3 separate regions of the Homo sapiens genome follow, and all the other regions are reported to be linked to region 1. The links are microRNA targets in miRTarBase. Many come from high-throughput screens and were not tested one by one. Region 1 holds a microRNA gene; each other region holds the end of a gene's coding sequence.
What was found. Region 1 holds the annotated microRNA hsa-miR-3192-3p (CUCUGAUCGCCCUCUCAGCUC, at 1,411-1,431, opposite strand). A microRNA usually pairs through its seed, bases 2 to 8, with sites in the 3' UTR of a target mRNA and lowers its output. Matches are read on the target gene's strand: a 7mer-m8 pairs with bases 2 to 8, a 7mer-A1 pairs with bases 2 to 7 and ends in A, and an 8mer does both.

Region 2: miRTarBase lists IKZF4 as a target of hsa-miR-3192-3p. Seed matches in the 3' UTR shown: 7mer-A1 at 933-939.
Region 3: the mRNA of SERP1 is a reported target of hsa-miR-3192-3p. Seed matches in the 3' UTR shown: 7mer-A1 at 2,625-2,631 and 7mer-A1 at 1,817-1,823.

The regions. Positions count from the first base shown.
Region 1 is chr20:18,467,849-18,472,092 of GRCh38, reverse strand. MIR3192 (microRNA 3192) reads right to left here and starts at 1,478; the gene lies at 1,402-1,478. It overlaps POLR3F (RNA polymerase III subunit F), which reads right to left. Exons shown (of 9, transcript NM_006466.4): 2 at 3,032-3,149.
Region 2 is chr12:56,034,782-56,039,025 of GRCh38, reverse strand. It overlaps IKZF4 (IKAROS family zinc finger 4), which reads right to left. Exons shown (of 8, transcript NM_022465.4): 8 at 591-4,244. The coding sequence ends at 3,695. Among named protein-coding and RNA genes, the nearest start is that of RPS26, 5.0 kb to the left of the region's middle.
Region 3 is chr3:150,540,955-150,545,198 of GRCh38, forward strand. It overlaps SERP1 (stress associated endoplasmic reticulum protein 1), which reads right to left. Exons shown (of 3, transcript NM_014445.4): 3 at 1,044-3,544. The coding sequence ends at 3,504. Among named protein-coding and RNA genes, the nearest start is that of SERP1, 3.4 kb to the right of the region's middle.

The DNA.
Region 1 (4,244 bases):
TTGGGTCCGAACTTAAGAGAACCCAGATAATTATACCACTAGGCTCTGGAAGTACTAGAAAGCCACAGTTGAGAGGGACGCTATTCCCTTGTTTATTTATGTATTTATTTAGAGACAGAGTCTCACTCTGTCACCCAGGCTGGTGTGCCGTGGCACAATCTCGGCTCACTGCAACCTCTGCCTCCCGGGTTCATGCGATTCTCGTGCCTCAGCCTCCCAAGTAGCTAGCATTACAGGTGTATGCCACCATGCCACGCTGATATTTGTATTTTAGTAGAGATAGGGTTAGGCCATGTTGGCCAGGCTGATCTTGAACTCCTGGCCTCTAGTGATCCGCCTACCTCGGCCTCCCAAAGTGCTGGGATTACTGGCAGGAGCCACTGTGCCCAGCCCATTCCCTTGTTTTAAAACAGACACTCATGACTTGGAAATGGATTTACATACTGAATGAACAGTGACACACTCCTGTTCCCTGACCCCACGAAGTGGCAAAGTAGGACTACAAGGCCCAATCCAGAGGCTCTGGTCATTTATCCAGCTTATGAATATTTACTGAATACTTGTACTGTGCCAGGTGTTATGATAGGTGTTTGGGGGAACAACATTAATTCTAAAAGGGAAACACACAGGTGACTTCAATACCCATCTGGTTGGCATTAAGATAGAGGTAAGTAAAGCCACCCTGAACTCCCAGATTGGGTACTCGGAGAACAGGCTGCGGCCCAACCTGGGGGGGTTCAGTGACTTCCTGGAGACAATGGCAGAGTTGAGTCCTAATGCGTTAGTCATCTGTAAAGAATAAGAAGAACCTTCTAAGCAGGGGAACAACATGAGTCCTGTGGCACGAAACAGCATGATGTGGCCAGAAACCAAAAACAATCTGCTCCTCCTGAAACCTAACTTTTGAAGTAGAGTGGTGGAGATGAGGCTGGTGAACAATGCAGGGACTCAGTGTGGGAAACCCAGGAGTTTGAACTTGAATCTCCAGTATAAACAAATTGTAGGTGGTAGAGTGCCTTGGTCAGACCTGCATTTAAGACAGATCAGGGGCCAGGCTCGGTGGCTCATGACTGTAATCCCAAATCAGGCTGGCTTCTCTGAGACAGATGGAGTCATGGAAACCAGTTAAGATGCTACTGCAGCTGTCCAGGTAAAAGCCATGAGCCTGAACATGATGCAGTACCAGGGATAGAAATGGAGGGGGTGTGGACAGCAAATTTAAGAACTGTTTTTAAGAGCTAAAATCAGAAACATTACATGATTTATTAATAATCACTCCCTTTCTTAATATCCTTTGATAGCTCTACTACTGCCTGCATACAACCTATAGCCAATAGGACTCGCAGTGGGTGGGTGGTGGCAGAGGTGGTAAAAGAGAGGTGCTGAAGATGATTTTCAGTCAGAAGGAAAGAGCTGAGAGGGCGATCAGAGGAAGAAAAGAACTTTTTCCACTGCTACAACCTCCCAGAATCCCTTCCTCTGTCTTTCCTAGAGCTGAAGACCTTCACCACAGTGAAATAACTAGAAATCAGCAACATTCCTTTGTCCTTGGGCTAGAACAGGGGTGAGCAATCTGCTCCACAGCTTGTTTTTATAACCAAAGTTTTGTTGGAACATGGCTGTAGCCATTTGTTTATGTATCATCATCCATGGCTGCTTCTTGCTAAAATGACAGTGTAGTTGTGACAGAAATCATATGGCTCACAAAGCCTAAAACATATACTGTCTGGCACTTTATAGAAAAAGTTTGCCAACTCCTGAGCTAGAAAATTGATGGGAAAGGTTTAAGAAAAGATTCATCGGACCCCAAATCTCCACATCCAGAGCCCTTGGAAATCCAACAAGGCTAGTAGACTTAAAAAACAAATCAGTCATTCAGATGAGGCCTTGGCGTAGAACTCTTTAACCTAACTGCTACTAAAGCCAAACTGAAATGCTCTTAGGAAAAGGATGTTTTGGTGATGAGGGAAAGTAAGGGAGATTTAGAGCATCGGCACCACTTGGTGGGTTTTTAGACAGTCTTGCTTGTTTGTTTCTGGACAGATGGAGAATGGCTTCACTGATAAATTCCATTGCAATGTCACTGGGGGCTAAGGCTGCACTTCCTCCCCAAAGCCCAACATTCTTCATTCAACTGGACTCATTCTTGCTTCCTGAAATGCTCAGAGTGACAATGTGGAGAATGAAACCCTGATGACTGGGCTCTGTGACAACTCATAGGAAAATCGGGGGGTGGAATATTTTATGGGAAATGGCCCAACACCAGCAGTAGGAAGCAAACAGAAGGTGAGAACAGACTAGACCTATGTATGGCAGTGGCAATTAATAAATACAACAGTTATACCATAATACATTTATTTCATTTGTCTTATAACGCATAATTATTTCTTCTTTTTTCAATTCAGGTAGTTTGAGCTGTTTCCTGGTTTAGAGTCTTATCAGTCAAACCTAACACACTTTCTCGTTTTATGACTGCTGTATTAGGGTTCTCCAGAGAAAAAGAACCAATAGGATACACCTCCCTCTTGAAAGATTCATCAGAAGCTATTTGCTCTGTGATTATGGAGGCTGAGGAGTCCCATCATCTGCCCTCTGCAAGCTGGAGACCCAGGAAAGCTGGTGTTGCAGATCAAAGGGCTGAGAGCAGAGAGCTGATGGTGTAGATACCAGTCCAAGTCTGAAGGTCTGAGAACCAGGAGTGCTGAGGGCACAAGATTCATAGCCCAGCTCAAGATTGAATTCAAAGAGTGAATTCAATCTTCCTCTGCCACTTTGTTCTATTTAGGCCCTGAATGGATTGGATGATGCTCACCCAACTGGACCCATATCTACTTTACTCCGTTCACCAATTCAAAATGCTAACCTCTTTCAGAAACACCCACACAGACACTCCAATAAAATATTTAACTAGATATGTAGGAATCCTGTATCTTAGTCAAGTTGACATGAAATTAACCATCACAACTACATAATAAAAACCAGTGATAATCAGCATATCAGTAATTATGCAAAATAGTTAGATTCACCTTACCATAGACAACAACCTATTGATGGCTACTGCCCGCTGCTGGGCTTCTATATGAGGCATTTCATTCTGAATTACTTGGTCTGTGATTCCATGAGGGAACTGGTGACATAATTCTATAATCCTAGAAACAAAGGTATTAATGTTATCCTTCATGGTTACCTGTTTCAAGAGACAGTGGGGGTAAAAATACAAGTAGAATAGTTTGAAACTGTGCCTTTTTCACATTTGGCAGACAATCTGGGTTTCTGTGATGGTTTTGGATCAAAGCATGTTAGAAATTGAAGAAGATGATTTCTAAATACATGTTTACAGTATTATTGTTATTTAAGAATATTTCTTTTCCTCACTAATAAGAACTTTAAATTAGAGCAAAAGTCTAATGAAATCACAGAAAAAATATTAAAGCTGAGACTTCAGTTTTCTCGGGTGTAATAAGCATGACAAAGTTAAGCCATAAATCTGCAAGCAGGAGGCAAATGCAGATGTTTCTGGTAGGAAGCCAAAATTTGTTATGACAATTCACCATAATGGGGCCTGTTTTTGGAATTATACCTACCAAACAAAAAAAGTCAAAATCTTCACCTAGTCGACATCAACAAATGTATTATTCCTAACAGTCTGAGAAAGTTGAGTCTTTTAAAACTACGTGAAAATCTAAGAGTGGCAGTGCCTCGGTAAAATATAAAACTGGGCCGGGCGCGGTGGCTCACGCCTGTAATCCCAGCACTTTGGGAGGCCGAGGCGGGCGGATCACGAGGTCAGGAGATCGAGACCATCCCAGACAACATGGTGAAACCCCGTCTCTACTAAAACATAAAAAATTAGCTGGGCGTGGTGGCGCGAGCCTGTAGTCCCAGCTACTCGGGAGGCTAAGGCAGGGGAATCGCTTGAACCCGGGAGGCGGAGATTGCAGTGAACCGAGATCGCGCCACTGCACTCCAGCCTGGCGACAGAGCGAGACTCTGTCTCACAAACAAACAAATAAAAATAAAAGTGGCAGAGGCTTTGGGTGTCCTAAAAGTCTTGAGTTCAATACTGCACTGAAACCACCTGGCTTAATGTTACTTCGTAATCACCAACTGCGCCCTAACTCCGCCTAAACGTTTTGTCATAGACGTTCCCTTAGTGACAAGAGCGATCCTGGATCAGAACATGTATTCACAAGTGTTCTACAGGGAAAGAAAGCCGAGGGCTCCTCTCAAAGCACTGATCGCGT
Region 2 (4,244 bases), not on the chromosome of region 1:
ACTATTTAAGACAGAAACAAATTTATGTTCCTACTTTGGATTTTTCTAGCTTAGGGGTTTCACTGGCTGCATTCCCTGGCATAAAGCGATGAGCACATGCTTTGGATCACACACCCCTGGGTTCAAATTCTGGTTCTGTCACTTACTGGCTGATGAGCCTTGGATAAGGTATTTATTCTCTCTTGGGCTTTTATTTTTTTACCAATAATTGTGATCATCCTTTTGTAGGTGTTTCTACAATTCAATGAGTACTTAGCATTTATGAGATGCTCAAGCAGTGGTAGACCCTATGATTGTCATCATTCGCATTATTTCACCCTGGGCATAGAATGTGTTTTGTGCACAGTAGGTACTCAACAAATGTTTGATTAATTTCTACTTTGGGTAGACAGGCAAGTCAGACTTTCTCTCCTATCCTGAAGGCACTCCTTCCTGGTAGGAAAATCTCCTCCATTTCCCAGTCTAGGCTGAAAATTCTTCGTTTTTGTTTACCTCCTAAACTGTTCAGTAGTTGGTATAACATACTGCAAGGAGGACCCCTCCCTCTTAGTAGAAAAGCAAGGCAAAGGAAGTCTGCAAAAACAACCAGAGGTGTTAAATTACTCATGTTTATTTATAACAGACTTTCAGCCAGTACAGTACAAAACTTACAGTAGTATATCTCCGTTACACAAATATTTACTTACAATATATTACATATACAAAATGCTTTGCAATAAGTCTCAAAAGCTAGTTTAACTCCCCTTGAGAAAGGAGAAAAACTCTTTAAAAAAGGGGGGGAGGGGAATCAGAAGAAGAGAGGAGGAGGTGAAGGGGTAAAGGTCAAAAGAGACACCAAACATAGGCTACAAAGGAAACCCTAGGAGAGAGGGAGAAGAGAGGTGGTATTGCACTTGCTTCTGTGTTTATTTTTTCTTTTTGTTCTTCATAACTTCTGATTAAAAATATATATATATATGTATATATATATATTATGTACACAAGGAAAGAAGCTGCCAGAAGTATTACAAAATCCTATCTGCAGCTTGGACACTGACACAAAAAAACAAAGGTCTGGAAAAGTGTCTACTTAGAAATATTTTGTTGGTGGTATTGATTTTGAATAGCAATATAAAAGGAAACACCTCTTTTCTCCATGTGGGTTTCAGTGTGTGTGTATTTTTTTTTCTTTTTCTTTACTTTTTTTTTTATGCAAAAGGAGCTGGGAGAGAGCATGAGGATGTTTGAGGTTCCAGAGCTGGAAGGCTCTGAAAAGTAGGATTTTGTACCTAAGACCCTGGTTAAAGTGCAGTGATGGTCTGGAGAGAGACAGGATGCCCCCTCTCCCCTCCTTAGCACCTGGTCTTGCCCTTCCAGTCTCTGCTCTCATGGGCACAGAGTATAGCCTCAGAGCATAGTCCTTCATGTTCCGGGAGGTTACAGGTGCCACAGTTGACTGGGGAAGGGGATGGGGGCACCCTAAGGCTCTGATACCCCAGAAGGGACTAGTCCTTATGAAGTGTCACCAAATACACAGCAGACACAGAAGAGGTGGGAGGCGGTAGGTCTAACAGGAAGGGCTCAATAACCAGAATAGTTCAGGAAAAGCCCAGATATTAATCTCAGCTCTGCTGACATTCTAAAAAGGAGCTAGCACCCCAGGGTGCCGTTGAGGATTCTTCCTTTCTCTAGAGACTACTCTGCTCTGAGCTAACCTCCCCATTTTCTGCCCTTGGCAGCATCTATTTATTGCTACATTGTCAAGGAGGAACAATTGCCCCACAATGCTTCTCCCTGCCAATCTGGTTCTCTTGGGGAAACCTCAGAGTGGGGGAGAAAAAGGAGGACAAAGAGGAGAAAGTTTTTTAGGGTCTCCCTTCCCATAAGAAGGCAAGGTAGACTCCTCTCAGAGCCCTTAAGGCCCTAATCCCAGGGTCTGTTCCTTAGCCCACCCTTTACCATCCCCCCCCAAAATATCCCTGATAGGGAGTGAGAAAAGTAGGAGGTAAAAGAGCCAATAAGGAAAGGACATGTGGAAAGAAAGATGGAAGGGGAAGGAAGGGAAGAGAAAAGGAGAGAGAGAAGGACCAAGAGTTACAACTTGTGAGGTGTTGTGTTTGGTTTTTACTTTTTTTTTTCTTTAAACATAGAAAAACAGCCTTTGGTTTGAATCTCAAGGAAGCAGAGAGTGGGATGGCTGTGGCCTTGGGCAGAAAACTCTTGTAGAAAGAAACCTCCACTTGCAGTGGAGTTGTATCTCCTTCTGCCCCTTCTCACTAATCCTAGGTTACTCAAATAGCCAAGGGTCTCTGCAGTAGCCAGCAGTCCCCCCTCCTACCCTGTGTCTGGGAGCTGAGTGTAGAAGGGGGTAGTAAAGGAAGACCCCAGTTCAGTTGTACCCATCCCAGTCTTGCTGGAACAAGGGTGGAATGGGGTGAAGGGCACGTGCCCGTGCTCATGCTGGGATAATTTTTGGTTATACTGAAAATTAGAAGAGAGAAAAGAGATACCCGTTTCTCCCTGCCACTGATCCTAAGAACAGGGCCCAGGAGCCCGGGAATGAGAGGGTGAATCCTGCTGGGAGGGAGCAGCAGAAGGCAGCATGACTGAGGGGCTGAAACAACCCCTTGTCATCAGGCAGCAACCCACTAGTTTCTCATAGGATGGGGACTGAAGGAGCCCCTGAGAGCCTAGGAAGGTCACTATAGTGAAGAAGTTTGAGAGGTGGAGGAGAAAGAGAAGAATTTTGACCCACTCCTTTCCCATGCCCTGGTTCCCAATTAGGCACCTGTGGCTCCCAATCTGTCAGAGACAGAGGGTTGCAGACCTAGCCTTGGCCCCTGAGAATATAAAATTGGGGCACTCCAAGGAGAGAAAAGCCACCACTTAATAGACCGGTAGGTTGAAGGGACTAGAGCGTGTGGAGGGGTAGTTCAAGGAGAGGGACCAGATCTATCACATCCTAGAGGGAGATCCTGAATGTAGGCTTTGAGAACTCATATTACTAGGGGAATATGACCTATTACTAGGGGAATAGGACTCTCAGTCCCACAGTGCCTGGGGAGAATTTCTTCAGTCCCTCCTACTTCCAAATGAGGAAATAATTCTTCATTCATTCAAGAATAGTGCAAGCTGCCTAAAGTGAGAGGGCACAAGAGGTATGGAGTACCAGGTTGAAGAGTCCCAGAGAGGAGATATAATGCCACAGAGCTAAGGTAGGGCCGGGGGCAGGTATCAGCATCAAAACTGAAGAATTAGATAATGTAAAGGGTGAGGACTTAAAGCAAGAAGCTTGAAGTCTCTTAGTACTAAGAGGAGCTTCCTACCCCTGGGGCTGCTGGAAGATCTAAGAGAGAAAAATTGGCCTAAAGTGGAAAGGAGTTGTGGACAGGAGGGTGGGGGAGTGGCAAGTGACTGATATAAGTTAAAATTTAAAAAGGCAAAAATAAATCAACTAATTAATAAATAACTCAGTATGCTGGGATGAGAGAAGATAAAAAGGAAAAACATAAGCAAAAGATCTGTTTCATCACAATGCTTACATCGGTCAGGATAGAGGAAGAGAATAGGTGAGGAGGGGTCAGGGTCAGGTGTGAGGTCAGGTGGCCAGTAGTGAGGGCTACAAAGCAAAACTCCTTGGGAAATGGTGGGGACAGGGATCAATGCCTGTAGTCAGGGCAGTGGAGTGGTGGACTGAGGAGAGAGGGAGAGGTTGCTAGCCCACCTTATGCTCCCCCCGGACAATGTGGGAAGAGAATTCGTACCGGTCCTGGCTGTGATAACCACAGATGTTGCACTCAAAAGGGTCTCTGAAGCCATGGCAGCCCATGTGGATAGTGAACATGACGTGGTCCAGGAAGAGGATACGGCAGTGCTCACACTTGAAGGCCTTCACAGGCTCACCACTCTCGCCCACCACCCGAAGCACTTCCTTGGAGGGGCCTGGGGTGCCCCGCAATAACCCCTCCTGTGGCTTGGGGTCCTCTTTGGCGTAGGCAGGACTGTGCCGGCCCACCACAATGGTGGGAGGTGGCTGGGGTGGGGGACCCTGAGGGAGGGATACCACCCCCGCAACCCGATCTTCGTGGTTGCTTTCTGTGTCTGTGGAGTCCTGGCAGCCATTGCTGGGGGATGCCCCAGGGTCAGTCAGGGGGCCTCGGGGCCGGTAGAGGAGGGGACCTCCATCAGCCAGGTCCTCAGGTCCCTCACCTGCTTCTCGGGATCCTGGAAGCTCCAGTCGACCAGGGAGGGGCTGCATCTGGGTG
Region 3 (4,244 bases), not on the chromosome of region 1:
ACTCTAGCAAAATAATTTTTAAAAATGTAACCTTAAATGTATCACAGTGGTAACATTACTAGCCCTTGCATTTTTGTGCTGTACAGGGAGCACCACTAGTAAATTTGTCACTAGTTTTTTTTAAATGCACCCATAAAAGGACAGATTCCTTTTTCCTTCGAATTGGCAATTAAAAAAAAATTAAAGAATTTCTGTAAAAGCAGAAGCAAAGAGCTCGTGAAAACAGAAGTGTTCTAAGTGTAAGTTTTGCAATCATTCCTATTACCATAAAGTACAAGAAACTTTGGTTCGTTTCTGCTCTCCCCCAATTAGCTCTGTGATTGAAAAAAACAAAAAACAACAAAAAAAATTTATCTGGCTTTACTTGTCCTTTGACATACTTATTACAATTGTAGTTATGCTTTCATTTTGTCTGTTCCTTCTCTACTGGTCTGAGATATTTCAGTGTCAGGACTATGTATTCACAGTTCCATACCTGGCATATAAGTTGTTCACTGACTAAAATGCATGTTTTTGTTAATCTGCGAATTGAAGCAGTTGGATTAAATTTTCCATGTCCCTTCTTTGTTTCTGTGATATATATTTACTTTGAATTACCTAAGCCTAGGCAGTTAATTTTTCCCTTAATTTCTAGCCTTTTATTGCTCATTAATCCTCTTTCTAAATAAGGACATGTGTCCTAATTCAATTTGAAAATAAAGTAGTACAAGTAGCTACTGTGGTACTAAGTAAGTTTAGACAGGAAATGCTTCTCTGAGGGAGTGCCATAGAGTTTGCTGTTGAAGCCAATCAACTCCTACCTCTTGAAGTTACGGTTTGCATCTAAAAAATAAATTTAAAAACTACAAAGGCAAGTAAAGGCAAATCAAACTTAAGAACAATTTCTAAATGGAGAATCTGATGCTCTAAGTTTCACAAATGAAGCATAATAAAGTTTTGCTGGTGAACCTACTAAGCCCAGGAACATAATCCAGCTCTCCATGGTTGTCCTTTGTACCAACAGAACTCCAGTAACCTCAGTGAGAAGAGTCATGGCCCTGCAGTTGACTATCCACATTTCTTTAATGTAAGTCAAAGCCCATCACAATGCATCCTGTTACAATGGAAATCTTATTTTTGGAAGTCCACTTAATTATTTTGAGCAACATTATATACAACCCAACAGATACAATTAATTGACAACTTGTTGAAATGTTAGAGTTAAACCACAAAGAGTAACTGAGTAATGTTGACAACCCCAATATTTATTCTCATACTGTGCTCAACATTAGATGATCTATAAAATTCAACTGGCAAAGGGAGATCAAAGAATTGTGCTTCATCTTGAGCTTGAATTGGATGACAAGGAGATTAGGAAATCCTAAGTGGAAAAATATTCAAATCATTGTGCTTTCTATATATTTTTCTTACCACCTATTTCCAGTTATAAACCTTACATCTGTGCCTCTGCATACCATTTAAGTACAATACTAAACATTCTTTAAAATCATTTTCTACTAACTATAAAAGGTACACTCAGATAACTGTAAAATCATTTCCGTTTAGAAGAAAAGCATCAAATATTCAGGGAACTTTATTTTTAAAGAATAAATCAAGTAAGACACAGCTTTCGTTTACCTAAACATGCATAATCCAACCTGAATATAAACTGCACTTAATTGGTGAATTACACATGAAATACAAAGGGAATGCAATTTTACATATGTAAAATGATTGCTAGCTATAGCAATTTAACAGTCAAATTTATCAGAACATTGTACATTAAAAAACACAAACAACAACTTAAAGCCAAATATCTATAGTAAACCAAGGAAAATTCTGATATGGAATGGTTTGACTAAAAGCAAAGAATAAGGCACCTGCTATGAATTTAGCACAACCATAAAACAGAATTAGTTAACCAAGACACTTGTTTCAAAAAGGGAAACAAGTACAGAGACTGATTAACTGGGTGAGAAAGGCAAGTAACAATTTAGTTAAAAACCTGCTGGCCCAAGGTCAGTTGATTCATTCCTTATTCCAGAATAGTTAAGTTCCTGAAAGTCCTTAACCACTCTGCTCCCTTACTGTTCTCCATGTTTGAGGGTATCAGAAGCCCCCTGTGAGGTTCACGCTGTGTATAGACTAGGTAGCAGATTTCCCTTCTGTTCCTCTTAAAACAGCTTATTTTAAAAGAAATATCCTGAGGCAATTAACAAAGCAAACACAAGCAGCTTTCTTTCCAACGCATTAATACATAGACACTGCTCAGGTTTTTTTTCACCAAGTTATGGCTAAGTATACAAATAGCCAATACTTGCAGTTTTCAACAGTACTAGAAAACCCAAAACCTGCCCTATGACCCTCACCCTTACCATTAGTAAAACGTAAATTTGATCAATCATAACCTATAAAGTCATATAACAAAGGGAAGACTAAAGACTGATCATTATCAGTAAATCCATTCAATTCCAGATGCCACTTTAGGCTGATGTGTCTAGTACCCTAATGATTGAAAAATCATTAATCTAGAAAAAGCATTTGCAAACTAAGGATAACTTCGCAGTTGATGTGCCTTTTTTTGCTATTAAAAGTGCTATTTAACATGCTAAAATGTCTTATGGCACATTGGACTCAACAGCATGTTCTGATGAGGCATCCATTTTTAGCAGTATTTTTCCCTAGAATTTTGTTTGGCATAGTAAACCCCTTTGATATATTAAAATAGTTCTGGTGAAATAAATGTAACATAAACAAACCTTCCCTGACTGACTTCACTCCACCACGGTAGCTTTTAGTGAAACCACAGTAACTGATTAAGTCAGAAAACGATCAAGTTTTTTTTTTATGGCATCTTGGGTTACTATACTCACTCATGCAAAATCCAAGGTAGTGTAATGGAAACAATATTGGTAAAATAGATGTTGTGGCTATAAGCATCTCCCTTTATATTAGACATTTAGAAGCTTTTAAAACTTTTTAGATGCTAAAGGTTGTGGCAAAACTAGGCTGTGTAGTTGTTCCATTTATAAGCACCTTATTACAGGACAGTTACATGAACCTATAAGGGAGTGTGCTTTCAGTTCAAAAGAGTAATAAAGTGCCTAGCTATATAAAAACCACAAGACTTCAAATTGTAATTTAAGCTAACTGCAGTTATACATTTGGGTTAACAAAATCTAGACCCTGTCTATGCAGAGTTAGACTAATTGTTCATACTGTTTTAATAACCACATAAAAAAACTTACTCTTAATTGACTGAATAAGTAGGGTCCACTACTGTATCTTAACAATCAAATTTTATTGCTTTATTCATGTGGTGTTTTTTGCAAGGCACTGTGGTATGGACTAGAAAACTTGGAATGACTCATGAAGAAACCTTGGAATGACACATGAAGCATGATAGGAAAGTCATTCTGAGGCAGGATGCTTTACTGAATTGTTTTCAACCAGGGTATCAAACATCAGGAATGAGTTCAAGTTAAAATTCACAGGAGAATGGAAACATCTTAAGGTCAGTCACTTCACATGCCCATCCTGATACTTTGAATAATCTGGAAAATTGCTGTAAAAAGAAAGAGCAAATATTAAAATAAGCTTTGAATAAAATAGGTCTGGTGTCTAACAAATATTTATTAAGGTAGCTGAAGAATCCAAAGGTACTCTTACATTTGCAAATGGTACATAACTTCAGTATAATAAGAAGTGAAGACAGGCCTGTCTGAATAAATAAAACAATGAAATATCCCTGAGTTATTTTTTTATCTTAGCTTCGCTGAACTTTATGTCTAAGTATCCAAGAGAACTTGCAGATAAGTAATCATTTTACAAAGAACTTAAAGCACCAAAGCCAACAGGTTTTTCCAGCATAGAATTATTTTGGTTTATAAGCATCCTTTTAAGGCCTGGCCTGTAACACATGCATGTTTCCTCATTCTCACAAAGCTGAAATTCAATCATCTTCAGGTTATATAAACTGCTTGGCTCTCATCCATTTATCAGGAAAGCTTCCAATTGGTAAGTGAAGAAGAAAGGCAAAGTGAAACGTTAAACAGAAATCTCAGTAATTTTAGAATGTGGAAAACAAACATCTACTTCAATATTAACAGCTTGCATATTAAAATGATAAATGAAGAGAGGAAAGACCTTTTTTTTGTAATCTATTTGCAAAGGCAAGTGTCTGTTACTCTTAGGGGACAGCAGGCTACCCCGACACTTTTTTTTTAAACCATGTATCAAACGTTTCTTTTATTAACCTAAAAACA